Regions from separate parts of the Homo sapiens genome. Here region 2 is reported to be linked to region 1. The links are microRNA targets in miRTarBase. Many come from high-throughput screens and were not tested one by one. Region 1 holds a microRNA gene; the other region holds the end of a gene's coding sequence.

Region 1 (7,263 bases):
GAATCCTCCCTCCTCAGCCTCCGAAAGTGCTGGGATTACATGTGCCACCCTGCCTGGTCACTCTTAGCTAATTTAACCCTTAACTTTTTTTAACCCTTAGACTTTATCCTTGCACCGAGTATATAAACCCCTTAGCCAAACTCACTTAAAAAACCCAAATGTGTGCTCAAACTTGCTTGATGATAAAAACTAAAGAACTTAAAGGAATGAGGATGATGAAGGCCATTATGCCATGATACACAATTATTTCAAATACAGTGGGCAACACCCCATGTCATTCCAGAAACCTACCTTTCTGTAGTTTTTCAAGTCTGTGAAAAGCATTCTTTTTAGAATGCTATGAATTTAAGGAATAATATTTTGTAAGCATCTAAAGGTTTGGTGAAGTCAAAATCAGTATTTTTTTTAAAGTCTAAATATTTATCCAAATAGTATAAGGCTTGACATCGCTTTATATTATTGGACCAAGAGGAAGACTTTTTAAAATAAACCCATTAAAAAGTTTTAAACATATTACACAGTTACAGTTGCCTGATTTTTTGTGTGTGTATACAATTTACTGTCATAACACTGAAAACTCAACAAAGCTGGCTAATGCAGAGTTTTGACAGAGGGTGAATTAAACTGATATAGAAGGTAAACAGTTTACATTCAAACCTAAATCTCAGTGGTTGATATTTTTTCTTTTAACGTGTACCATTTGGCTGCTTTAAAAATGAATTTGAGACCAGTCAGCCTTTAGTATTTAAACCTAAAGCAAATAGTAATAACTATCCCCATTTAGAGATTAACTTCAATTCAGCAGGCAGTTCTGTAAGCCCTTTTCCTATTAAGTATTCCTAGATCTGTCCCATTGTAAATCACATATTCTGAAGATTCATATTATTAATTCATTTTTCAAATTTTTCATCACAGACATTCAACAGAATCAAAAATAACCACTATGTCCTATAATGTACTGGTATCGTTTCAGCCAGAACAAATGACATCTGACATTTTAGTTACACTCTGTGTTCTCAACTAAGAAGAAATGCAAGCTTTACATTAGGTGGTGGGTTTTTGGTTTATTTTTTGCTTTTTCAATATGGAAAATAGCTTGTGGACTATCACTAACACCTCTGTGGTAACTTAGTAATGCAGGATCTCAGCAAAGGAGATCATCAATCATGGAGGTCGAGGTTTTTCATCTTCCCCTATGACCTCACCTATAGACCTACCTGCTATTATTATAGGCAAACAAGTAGAAGAAATTTACATGTTTGACTTTGGCTCTGCAGTGATGGGTCTACTCCTAGATATCAACAGTAAGTTCTGTAGTAGACAACAGAAGCAGTATGATGAGTGAGCACTGGAAACATGAAGTCCAGTATTCAAATTCTGGCTTATAACCTTGGCTCCTGGCAATGTAACTTTAGGCAAATCACTTCAAGTTTTTTCATCAGGAAAATGTGGGTTGTTGAGAATTTAATGAGATAAAATATACAAATCCTAGTATATAGCAGATCCCCAATATATGTTAATCTCTTACCCTTGTTAACAATTAAAATACTACTGCAAAATCAGGTATTTTACATTTTTAGAATCACAAAATAATACCATTCAAAGACATTTTCTCAGACATTCATTTGAGTCTGCTTGTACAAATTACTGCACAGTCTATCCCACAGTTCATTAGTTCTCTGCTGCACACAAATTGATTTTATAATTTAAATACTCTCGACTTGAAACCCAGAGAGGAATGTAAGAGCATCCATCAGCGGTGGTCTCACTGCTCACTGGTTCTTGGGATGTGGATGGGAGAATGAAGAAGGGCTATCAGGCCAGCCTTCAGAGGACTCCAAGGAACATTCAACGCTGTCGGTGAGTTTGGGATTTGAAAAAACCACTGACCGTTGACTGTACCTTGGGGTCCTTACAGACGACACTACATTTCCTGAAGCAAAAGAGCAAGCTGTACCTTCACATGTCACATGAGTTCACCAGAAATGGTCCTGCAATCCCCCAAATGTGGTCCAGTGAATTTTATTCCTACTGCTCACTGTTCCTTGCTTTCTGTTGTGTGTTTTATTATTATTTGTTTGTTTTTACAAAAAAAGTGTTTCATTTCAACAAGGTAAGGAGCAGTCCATGATGATATCTAATGTACCTACATGTCTCCTAGATATGCACCATTCTGGTGAGAAACAGGACGTAGCAAGTAAAAATTTATTAAAAATACGTATTTTGTTTTGGAATAAAATCCAGTTAAATAATTACTCCCATTTCTCCCACATCCTCTCAAAATTTTTAATTAGGGGCAAGGGGAGGATTTAATAAGCAAAAATAGCACAAAATTATCCAATTGTGACAGTTCTTATCACATTTCACTTTGAATTATAGTTAATATGGTTAATTTTTGATATCCCAGTTAGAGCATGAGCTATTGCCTTACTAGTGCCCACATATCCCCACATATGCTTATTTAAATGTTTGCTAAATTCAAGCAAAAACTTAGCCCTGGAGTCAGTCAGATCTGGGATGAATCTTGGCTCAAGCCCTTAACTAGTTATTTGACCCCCTAAGCAAGTGTCTCAGTTTTCTCACATATAAAACAGAGGCTAAGAGTACCTATCATGGAGTTTTGAGACTCAATGAGATAATATATAAGGTGCTTTGTACCATTACTAGCCCACAGCAAATGCTCAATATATGTAAGCTGTTATTATTAAACTCCAACATAATCTGCTAATTTACCTCAAAAAAGCACTCATACTTCTCAGTTCAAAACAAAGAGGAAAAGCAGGTCCCTCAGCTGTGGTTTACAGGTACTAATATGCAAGCACTGCCTGTGTGGCGCAGTGCTACCTGTGAGGTTCTCCAAGCACTCCTTCCTTCTCTGAACCACAGCTTCCTCATCTGCAATAACCTCCCAGCTCCAATGTCAATGTTATGGACACCTGTGTGGGCCCTCAATCATGCAGATGGCTGGTTACTAAGGGAGAAGCCAGACACACAGACTTCAAAGAACTGAGATGGAAAAGAAGAGCCAGGAGTCAGCCAGGGAGGGCAAAGGCAACCCCACCAACTGAAAACACTGATGGCTGCACTCAACATTCATTGCTGTCGGTGGGTTTGAGTCTGAATCAACTCACTGATCAATGAATGCAAACTGCGGACCAAACAACCCAAAGGAAGCAAAAGCATGTGCAGAGAGTCGCCTGAGTGCAGCAGCTACTGCTGTGAGTGGGAGCTGCTACTATTTCCAAAACACTAGCTAAAGCTTTTCTTGTTCTCCTTGGTTCTAACATGGAGTAAGTTCTCTAAATTCCTAGTACTTTTCTCCTTTTTCAATAGTCTAGATTTAAGGAAATGATATTTTATAGGAAGAATTAAATACATATCTGGATATCACATCACATTTTAAAAATCAGTACATTCAGAATTTCTAAACAGAATCATATGCTTATTATTTAGAAATTCAAATACAAAAATATACAAAGTAAAAATTGAAAATCCCTTCAATCATCATCTGCAATCCATTTCCTCGGAGGAAAACATGTATAATTATAATAAACTTATTAAGATAATAAATATCATAACTAGAATTTATTTTATATCCTTGAAGACCTTTATCCATACATACACAGATAAATAGCTGTAATTTTGCATGTTTTGGGGGGAGAGTGGCTTAGACAAAAATAAGCTCATTTTTACCTATTGTTCTATAATCTATTTTGTTATTCAGCTATATATCATAGACTTCCACAACAGTCTTTTATGTACTCGTCATTCTTTTAAATGGCTATATAGTATGACTTAATATGAATGTTCTGGTTATTATTCAGATGTACATCAATATTCTCTTTTGACAAAAACTATGAGGCTCATTCATTCTAACCTTTGCAAACCATGTCCCTCAAACAGGAAAAACACCTAAGTGAGATAGAAGATGTACATTTTTCTTAACAAAAAATTTAAATGTAGTATCAACTCTCTAAATCCTGTAACATGAGATAAGCCACTAAATCCCATGTTAAAGAAAGAAAAACAAGGCCCTTGGTCATGAATAATTTATCATACACTTAAGTCTAAGAAGAAGCAGATTCTCATAGCAAAAGTCAAATAAGACAGTAAGAGAAGAGTCTTGTCAAATTAGCCTTGACAATTAAGCAAGCCTTAATTTGACAAGGCTTTCCTGTCAAATTAGGAAGGAGAAGTGATGGGGTAATGAGACAAGAACCAGAAAGAGAAATCAAAGCCAAAAGAAAAATCTAAAGAAAACTATGAGAGTTCAGAGAAAATATCAGGTTCAAGCCAGTGTTTCCCAAACTTCTTGTACACCAGAATCATCTAGAGTTGCTTTTAAAATGGCAAATTCCTGAGCCCTACTCTAGACGAGGTGATTTTGGGTCACTGGAAGCTGGAAGCAAAGTAAATAAAGTTCACTAGCTTAACATCGGCTTCCTGCCCCCATCCCACCACCACATTTCATGTCATCCACTTTTCAACTATTGCCCAACCTTTTGTGTCACCACCTGAAATCGCCACTATTCTGCTGAGTGCAGACAGGTAGAGTCACATTTGTGCTGCTTTTAAGTATCTCCAGACTACATAAAATTTTGCACCATGTTTGGTGGCCAAATATACATCAAATTGTGTCTGATGTTTTATGGAAATGAATGGATTTGGATTTACGCTATCTAAAAAACTAAAACCTACCCAAAGAAATTACCAAAAGGTTTTTTTGTGTGTGTTTTTCTTTCGTTTGTTTGTTTTTTTGAGACAGTCTTGCTCTGTTTCCCAGGCTGGAGTACAGTGATGCGATCTCGGCTCACTGCAACCTCTGCTTCCTGGGTTCAAGTGATTCTCGTGCCTCAGCCTCTCAAGTAGCTGGCCCGCCACCACACCCAGTCAATTTTTGTGTTTTTAGAAGAAATGTGTTTTTAGTAGAGCCATGTTGGCCAGGCTGGTCTCAGACTCCTGACCTCAAGTGATCCGCCCGCCTCGGCCGCCCAAATTGCTGGGATTATAGGCATGAGTCACCGCGCCCGGCCCGAGGGGGTCTTTATAGAAGAGTTTTTTGTGAGACTGGTAGACACACAGAAGGTACTCCACGCAGTCTTGTTTTTCAAGATGCTGTGCATTCTAGGCATTTATTTTTAACCAATTATTTCCAAAATTTCTGAAAACATTAGAAAAGAATGTCTGACACGTACTTTGAAAAATGTACACTTGAACAAGCATGCTATTTATTTACAGACTATTACATAGTCTTTAAATATGCCAATGAAACAATTATATATTTCATTAAACCAAATCCAAGTTTTCTCTTGGATAAAACTAAGTACTACAAGAAGGGAGACAATTATGTAAGTTAAAGGGTGTTTTCTGCAGATAGGCCTCAAAATAAATACCTGTAACAGAAAAATTACATGGCATGTATAGGGGACAGGAAGAGAATAGTCCAGAGACTGTATTAGGGAGTCATAAGGAATGGCACTGAAAAGGTAAAAGGACATATTACAGAAGGACTTGTGAGCAAGGCGCAAAGTCAATTAGTCCAACAGAGAGCCGTTTTAAATGCTAAACTCAGCAAGGAGACAATGAAAGCAAGACTGGGAAGAGTCACTAAGCAGATGAAGTGAGGGGAAGAAAAGAGAAAAAAGAGAACTTTCTTGCACAAGTTAGCAGGGGTAGAACTGAGTCAACAGGAATGGAATGAAAGGAAAGGTTATCTCAAAAAGGCATACTTTGGCTTTTGTTTTTCAAAATAAAAGCCTACTGGCTGACCCCCTTCCATCATCCTGTTCGGTGTATAGCCTCACAGATATTTCAAGATACTTAAAATGCATGTATTTATACTTAGAGAAAATAACATCACAAATTATACATAATGTTCTCTAGCTTTTTTTTTTTTTTTTTTTTGAGATGGAGTCTCGCTCTGTCACCCAGGCTGGAGTGCAGTGGTGTGATCTCGGCTCACTGCAACCTCTGCCTCCTGGGTTCAACTGATCCTCTCACCTCAGCCTCCAAAGTAGCTGGAACAACAGGCACTCACCACCACGCCTGGCTAATTTTTGTATTTCTAGTAGAGATGTGGTTTTGACATGTTGGCCAAGCTGTCTCGAATTCCTGACCTCAAGTGATCCGCCCACCTCAGCCTCCCAAGTAGCTGGGACCACAGGCACGTACCACCATGCCTGGATAATTTTTTGTATTTTTAGTAGAGACAGGATTTTGCCATGTGGCCCAGGCTGGTCTCAAACTCCTGACCTCAAGTGATCCACCCGCCTCAGCCTCCCAAAGTGTTGGGATTATAGGCGTGAGCCACCGCACCCGGCCTGAAATCTTTCTTCACTTAAAATATTGTGGCCATCTTTCCATATCGATATATCAGAACCACCTTCCAAAGAACTGGCTCAAACAGAAAAGAAAGCAAAGAGTCAAGAATGATGCCAAACTTTCCTGACTAGATTAGGAGCCTGGAGTGTACTAAGAAAGAAATGGGCAATTTCACAATGGAAGAAAGAGGATTCCACTTTTGGAACAGATATCAGAACAAGGAATGCACATTTATGATTCATAAGCATGGATCTGAGAAAGAATGATCTAAGTGCAGAAAGAAAAAGGTAACAAATACTTATTGGACACCTAGTGTATACCTGGACTGCAACAGGAGCCAGGAGACATGGAAGAAACAAAAGTATATAACGTAAAAGGCAGAACTAATTCTAACGAACAAATAGCTAATTGCAAGTGTGAAGAGCTCTGCAGAAGATAAAAGTAAGGTACTATGAGAGCAAATAATAGGAGGGACCAATCCAGTCTTGGTGGTAAGAAGGGTCAGGGAACTTCCTTGAGGAAGTGATGTATAAGTAAAGACTTCAAGGGTATGTGTAACTACCTTGGTGAAATAGAGTAAGCATTCCAAGCATAGAGAATGGATGGTATGTTGTGTAGGCCAAAGAAGCAGTGTTTTTACAAAACAGAAATTGTGACTAAAGCACATAAAAAGATGGTGAAAAAGTCATGAGACAAGGCCAGAAAAGAAGGTAGGATTTAAAAAAAAAAAAAACAGATTACTAATAGTTTTGGAAAGAACAATTTTGGCGTTCTAGTCATTGTGGAAATAGATTTCTGGAAAGGTAGTGATGAAGAGCTTGGGCTAAATGAGGGTAAAAATCTCAGCTGTTACTTAGCAACTATATGAACTTGAGCAAATTACTTAACCTTTAAATCTGTGTCATCTGTAAATAGGAGATACAACAATAGTATTTGCTTCAC
Region 2 (7,000 bases), not on the chromosome of region 1:
GCCTCCCCGCCTTCTGCGACGCCGACAGGCCAGACGCCTACACCGCCCTGGTCACCGCCACCCTGGGCGGCGAGGAGCTGGAGCCGGCCCCTTCCTTGCCCCGCCCACTCCCGGCCACCGTGGGCGTCACCCAGCCCTACCTGGACAGGCTGGGGTACCGTCGGACGGACCACGACGATCCCGCCTTCAAGCGTAACGGCTTCCGCATCAACCTCGCCAAGCCCAGGCCAGGTGACCCCGCCGAGGCCAATGGGCCTGTGTACCCGTGGCGCAGCCTGCGGGAATGCCAGGGGGCCCCGGTGACTGCCAGCCACTTCCGCTTCGCCAGGGTGGAGGCGGACAAGTACGAGTACAACGTGGTCCCCTTCCGAGAGGGCACACCTGCCTCCTGGACTGGCGATCTCCTGGCCTGGTGGCCCAACCCGCAGGAGTTCCGGGCCTGCTTCCTCAAGGTGAAGATCCAGGGTCCCCAGGAGTATATGGTCCGCTCCCACAACGCAGGGGGCAGCCACCCACGCACCCGCGGCCAGCTCTACGGACTTCGGGATGCCCGGAGTGTGCGAGACCCCGAGCGTCCGGGCACCTCGGCAGCCTGCGTGGAGTTCAAGTGCAGCGGGATGCTGTTCGACCAGCGGCAGGTGGACAGGACGCTGGTGACCATTATGCCCCAGGGCAGCTGCCGGCGCGTGGCCGTCAACGGACTCCTTCGGGATTACCTGACCCGGCACCCCCCACCGGTGCCCGCGGAGGACCCAGCTGCCTTCTCCATGCTGGCCCCCCTAGACCCTCTGGGCCACAACTATGGCGTCTACACTGTCACTGACCAGAGCCCACGCTTGGCCAAGGAGATCGCCATTGGCCGCTGCTTTGATGGTTCCTCTGACGGCTTCTCCAGAGAGATGAAGGCTGATGCCGGCACAGCCGTCACCTTCCAGTGCCGGGAGCCACCGGCCGGACGACCCAGCCTCTTCCAGAGGCTGCTGGAGTCCCCGGCGACAGCACTTGGTGACATCCGCAGGGAGATGAGCGAGGCGGCGCAGGCACAGGCCCGGGCCTCAGGTCCCCTCCGCACCCGCCGGGGTAGGGTCCGGCAGTGACCTGGGCAGGGGCCTCGCTTTCCCACCTCCCTCCAGACTCCTTTGACCCCAGGAAGTTTTGCCCCTCCTTCTTCTCCAGACAGCCCCCTCCCCAGGTGTCTGGGTCCCCTTTCCCGCCCCTTTCCAGAACTCAGAGTCAGACAAGAACCCAGAGCATCCGATGGTAGAAACACCAGGAAGACAATTGTTGCTGTGTGGTATGGAATGGAGTTTGCGGTGACTCTGGGGCCAGCACCCAGGGGACGACGTTCAACCCTAGCCTGAAGGGACCCGCTCCCAGCTCAGAAGCCGTCTCTGACTTCTCGTGCGTATTTTGACCCTGATTTCAATCTTCTACCCTTGGGAGTTCTGGCGTTTGGCACAAAGTCCCCTCTGCCTGTTTGGAGCTCAGTGCTAGACCAGGTCCCCTGCCCCGAGCTTTGTTTTTGGGGTTATTTATTGAAACAAAGTGTGGGGAGCTGGTTGTGGGTGTGAGTGGGGGTGTGGGGTCCAGGCTGGGCCCAGTGAAAAGGAGGAAGGGGTTCCCATGCGGGGGAGGCTCTGGGGCTGAGGGGAACAATTCTCACGTGTTTGGTGCTTAGAGACCTGCCCGGGGCGTTGGGCAGGCCCTCCGGGGGCTGAATTAAAAATGCTTTATTTCCAACTCATGGTGTCAGGCTCTAGGGAGGAAGGATGGAGGCTGGGGCTGCCCGGCCCAGATACACCTTTCAGGCAGAAACACGCGGAGGCACACGCGGGTGCCGGGGGCAAGAAGCACGGGCGGCTGTGACCGCTGAACACAGTGGCAGCCTGCTGCTCTGGCCTGGACTCCTTGGCTGTGCCTGGCCGTATGCCCCGGGGCTACAGCAGGCAGGGAGGGGCCCTGGCAGGGGAGCCTCTGGGGCAGGCAACAGCAAGCCAGGCCACCCTGGACCTCCTCAGTCGAGTCCACAGCAGCCCCACCCTGGGCCCCACCCACCTGAACCCCGGCCACACCTCGGTCATGTGGCGACGGGGCTGCCCGAGGCCAGGGCTTTCTGACCTTGCCAGGACCCTGGGTCTGGAGGCGGCAGAATCACGGCTGGCTGGCAGTCTGTGTGCACGTGTGTCCTCCTGGCGCTCCACAGGGCCGGCGCTGTCCTGACCACACCCCCACTGTCCAGACAGAAAAACTGAAGTCCTGGGGTCTGGCATGAATCCCAGCAGGTTTGAGCCCCCTATAGCTCTAGGTGTGTGATTCCCCAGGGTCTGGGGATGAAGGCATCAATGTGGCAAGACTGGAGTGGCCTCCAGGGCACCTGGGATGGGAGACTTGTCCCTGGCTGACACCCCCTAGGGAGTGGGGGTATGGAGCGTCCCTTAGCTTAGGGGGCAACCACCCACTTCCTCTTCAATCTCCCACCCATTCACTGGCTCCCCTCTCCAGACCCCCGATCTCATCATTCACCCATCCAGCATTTAGAGGTGTGAGCTCTGCACTAGCAACTTCAGGGGACCTGAGAGAGCCTATCTCTCTAGGGGGAGACAGGCTCACACGTGCATACCCCAATATGCCCTGGGCCAGTGCTCCACCCAGAGGGTCCCTGGCTCTTGTCCACTGGCCACATCCCCCCTTCGGCTGAGGTCTTGGCAAATCCGAACCTCCGCAGCTCTCACCCTTTCAGTCAGGGAAACACTTCCTTTGCCCTAGGGTGGACTTGGGGGCCTGGAGGCATGGGAGAAGCCCAAGATGCGAGGCGTCACCCCTGGTCTCTGAAGGTGGGCCCTAAGGGCTCTGCTGGAGTTTGGGTTTGGGCAGCCCCAGACATTGGCACCCCAGCCTCACCCTCGATAGGCTGTGACAGGCAAGAGAGGCGAGAGGTCCCTGAGGGAGCTGGCAGGGCTTGGGAGAACACACATTTATCCAGAACTTACTGTCTCTATACCCCCAGCTGATAGGCTCAGAGGCACAGGCCCCTCCCAAGGCAACCTAGGTTCCCGGCCTGCCTGCCACAGAACCCTGCTCAGGGCTGCCTGGTGGGGGTCCTGGGGAGGGGTGGGAATGGGGGCGCTCCCACTTGAAGCGGGCAAAGCTGGCTGCAGCTTTCCAGGCGGAGGGTGATGAGGTGTCAGGCTCCACGGCCAAATACCTTTCATTGAGAAAGTGTTGGGGCCTCCGACGCTGCCAGGCTAGGGCGGCCAGCCAGGCATGGAGCGGGCAGCTGGCCCAGCCCTGTCCCCTTCCCTAGGGTGGGGCAGGGGTGGACGGGCATCCTCCAGAAGCCCCCTCCCCAGTCACCACGCCTGGGCCAGGAAGGGCATCTCAGGAGGAGGACATGGCTGAAGCAAAAGCTGGGCAGGGCACGGGGCTAGAGTCCAGCTCCTCCCCATCCCTGCTGATAACTCTGCAAGAGGGCAGCGTTTGGCCACAATTTCCAGATGAGGAAACTGAGGCTCCAAGAGAAGGACGCCATCAACCTGAGTCAACAGCCTTGTGCCTCTTGACACTGCCTGTCTCCCCCAACTGCAGCCCTCAAGCCAGGAATCCCACCCCCTCCCTCCTGGAACCTGGGCTACCGTCCGCCTCCTGGTAAATCCATTGTCTACCCCCCAACCAAATTGGGGCTGCCAGACCACACCCCCTCAGTCTGGGAGGAGTGAGGGGCAGGGGACCCCCTCGAAGAGACCCCCAGCTGCAGCCACCCTGGGTCAGCTCAGGGCACAAACAGGCCCTTGGTCCCGCCCACGGCATTTTAGACTTTTATAATTTTAGAACCAGGGGTTCTTAAAATTCCTAGCACCATGATGGGGAAAAAATCTTGGAACAGTAAAATGTTTAAAACAAGAGTCTTCAAACCACAGAATCCAAGAGGAGGGAGATAAAAATGAACACACATTGAGCGTTGACTGACTGTAAGCCCTCCGAGCCAGCCCCCGCAAAGCCTAACTCACTTTAAGGGCATTTAGTATAAATCTGTTGCCTTGGGATCCCCAAAATATGCTTTTAGGGAGGATGATTTTTACCCCCATTCCACAGCTGGAGGAATCTTCTCAGGGTCACACAGCAAATGGGGTACTGTGGGCTGGGGAAGGGCAATGTTTCCTGGAGAAGGGGACATAAGCACTGGGTCTTGAAGGATGTGTAGGAGTTTGCTGGGTGGCCAAGGCAGGAAGGGCATACCAGGGAGCTGGAAAGGTGAACGTGAAAGCTGGAGGAGGGAGACCCACGGAGGGCGGCAGTAGAAGGGAGACACAAAGTGGAGGTGAGCAGGGGCTCGAATGCTGAGTGAGGAGCCTGAGTTCTCTGGTGAGCAATAGGGAGCTATGGGTTGTGCTGAAGCAGGAGAAGGTTACACAATATCTCGTGACAAAGACTCCCCTGGAGCTGGTGCAGGACTCAGCTTCTTACAACATGCTTCTTTCACGGAACTGGGGTCTGCTCCCTCCTACTTGGGGGCCCTTCCAGGGTCCAAACCCTGCAGCCCAGCGCCCTCTCCCCGCCAGCTGCCTCCTGTCCTGGCTGAACATCCCTGGCTCCTCCATTGGGGCCTCGTGGACCTGGCGTGGCCACCCACCACTTCCCTAGCCCCGTCTGTCTCTCTCATCAGCCCTCAGAGTTGGGTCTGACCCAGCCTCAGACCCCAAAGACTGGAGCCAGCCTGGCGGGGAGACCTGGCTTTGGTCAGGTGGGGGAAGTGCTTGTGCTTTAATGGTGGAAACAAAGGCAGGATGCCACAGGGTGAGAGCAGACCAGGAGAATGCCATGTCCCGATGCCTCAGCCCTCCCAGGGCAGGAGCTAAGTCTAGACCCCTGGGCCGAGGGTGGAGGGGGTCTGGGCAGGCAGGAGGGAGGAGACCCCGGCCATCGGGGAATCAGCAGACCCTGAGGTTTGGAGGTGGATGCAGGGAAACAAACACTACCCTAGGCAGGGCGAGTGTGTCACACAGAGCCAGACACGCCTGTCATCGATCTCGAGGTCACGCTGCCCTCGTCACGCCCCATCCCTGTCCCCTGTAGTCAGGGGCATGACTCCCTCCTTCCCATACTTCCTAGCCAACTTCTCGTCACCTGATTGGTGACACTGTCACCCTCAGGACAGCCACATAGGCAGTTGCACTCGAAAAGAGCATGAGCCCAGACACACCAGACCCATGGGACACGCTGGACACTGTCCCCCCTCATCACAGCAGCACGGGTAGACAGATGCACCCTCAACACAGAGAAAGGCCCACGCTTAGGGTCAGGTAGCGGTGCCTGCAGCTGCGTGCACCTGTGCATACCTGTGCACACCTGTGCGCACCTGTGCCCAGCTCCCCTTTGACTCACCCATCATCACCCCACACATCGGGACACACTTGACCCCCAGACTCCCAGCTGGCCAGTCTCAACCCCCCACGACCCTCCACAACTCAGCCCCACCAGGCACATGAAGCCATGCCGAGCACAGGCAGCACCTCCCACTCTCTCGGGGCCCTGGGGAGCGGGTCGGCCCTGGGGCTGGGGACTGGCGGGAGGCCTCAAGGTCCCAGCCACTTTTCCAGGGAAGTCCTGAATCCCTTCCTGCTGACTCAGCCCTGGGGGCTGGCTAGGCTGGGGGCTGCCAAACCTCAGGTATGTCCTTGAAGGCTGCCTGGCGGGGCCTCTGAGGTGGGGGCGGGGGCTCCCACTCGGGACTCAGTCCTTCCCTGGGCCCCAGCCTCCCTCCTTGCCCCAGATGGAGCTGCAGCTTTAACCGTGGCGTTCAGGGCATGGGGCCAGCACGATGGAGCCTGAGGCCGGCTGCTCCCACCCCAGTTCCTCCCGGCTGAGGGTTGGTGGAAGAATAAGCTCCCAGCCCAGCCAGAGTATCCCAGCCTGACTGTGGCCTCATAAAGACAGCACTGTCTGGTGGGAGGTGGCCTGGCTGCCCATCCTGGGGCCCAGCACAGGGACCCATGCACACACAGTGGGCACACACGTACCCATGTGATGGCTACATGCAGACCTGTGGATACAGATGTGCATCATCAGACACAAACTCAGCACCAGGACTGGCCCCCACAGAACCCCAGTCAGGAGGGGGAGGCAGCACTGGCCACAGATACTCCAGTCTGCAGGGCCAAGGTTGGCCAGCCCAAAGGCCAGGGGCTGGGAAAACCCAGAGGAGGGCCCAGGGAAGGCTTTCTGGAAGAGAGGGCATTTTGACTTGGGCTTTGAAGGGTGAGTAGGAGTTTACCAAACCAAGCTCAGATGTCCAAAAGTCTTAATGCTGGTTTTGAGGTTTACCTTTTGTCTGTGAGGATGTTGGGCAGGGGAGGGAGACAGACAAACCCCAATTCACTACCTCCTTTTGAGGACCCAGCCTCTGCCCTCAGGGAGCTTCCAGTCAGATAGGGGAGGCAGCACTGACTCAGCCAGGAGGGATAGAAGATACTTCAGCTGTGTGAAGCACCTGTCGTGTGTTGGGTTGGATCCTGTCAAAAACCCATAGGGAAAATTCTATTATGATCCCCATTTTACAGCTGAGAAAACTGAGGCTGAGAGCGGGACATACCTTGCTCAGGGCCCACAGGGAAGCAGAGCTGTTCACACACAGCCCTGGTTGCTGACGTGCAATTGTGGCTGCTGACCTGGTCCCAAACCAACTCAAAAGTTTGCGGGCCAGAATGGTGCAGCTCAAAGAAGTCTGCGTTGGCAAAAGTTGCATCTTTGCACCTGGAATCCTGGCCAGGCCGGGAGGCCCCTCCTCCCGGGACATACAAGATCCCCCTGGGACTTCTCAGCGAGATCATCCCCTGTCCTTTGTTATCTGGCTGCTGAGTGGCTTTCACGGGGCAGGGGCTTCTAGGCAGAGGGATGTTGGAGTGAGGGCCTGGGGGTGCTTCGCCAGGACTTCTGGGAGGCCTGGGTCCCCAGCCTCGGCCCCGCTTGCCATCTGGCCCAGCTGAACACAAACACTTGGACA

The links. The annotated mature microRNA hsa-miR-181b-2-3p reads CUCACUGAUCAAUGAAUGCA and lies in region 1 at 3,127-3,146, shown strand. An mRNA with a match to its seed (bases 2 to 7 or 8) in the 3' UTR can be bound and repressed. Matches are read on the target gene's strand: a 7mer-m8 pairs with bases 2 to 8, a 7mer-A1 pairs with bases 2 to 7 and ends in A, and an 8mer does both.
Region 2: miRTarBase lists CILP2 as a target of hsa-miR-181b-2-3p. Seed matches in the 3' UTR shown: 7mer-A1 at 1,599-1,605.

The regions. Positions count from the first base shown.
Region 1 is chr9:124,690,637-124,697,899 of GRCh38, forward strand. MIR181B2 (microRNA 181b-2) reads left to right here and starts at 3,074; the gene lies at 3,074-3,162. The region is part of intron 2 of NR6A1 (nuclear receptor subfamily 6 group A member 1); the gene reads right to left. All of the region lies in intron 1 of MIR181A2HG (MIR181A2 host gene), which reads left to right. It overlaps MIR181A2 (microRNA 181a-2), which reads left to right and starts at 1,806; the gene lies at 1,806-1,915. RefSeq lists an enhancer at 4,386-4,931.
Region 2 is chr19:19,544,920-19,551,919 of GRCh38, forward strand. It overlaps CILP2 (cartilage intermediate layer protein 2), which reads left to right. Exons shown (of 8, transcript NM_153221.2): 8 at 1-1,740. The coding sequence ends at 1,097. Among named protein-coding and RNA genes, the nearest start is that of CILP2, 10 kb to the left of the region's middle. RefSeq lists an enhancer at 463-1,146.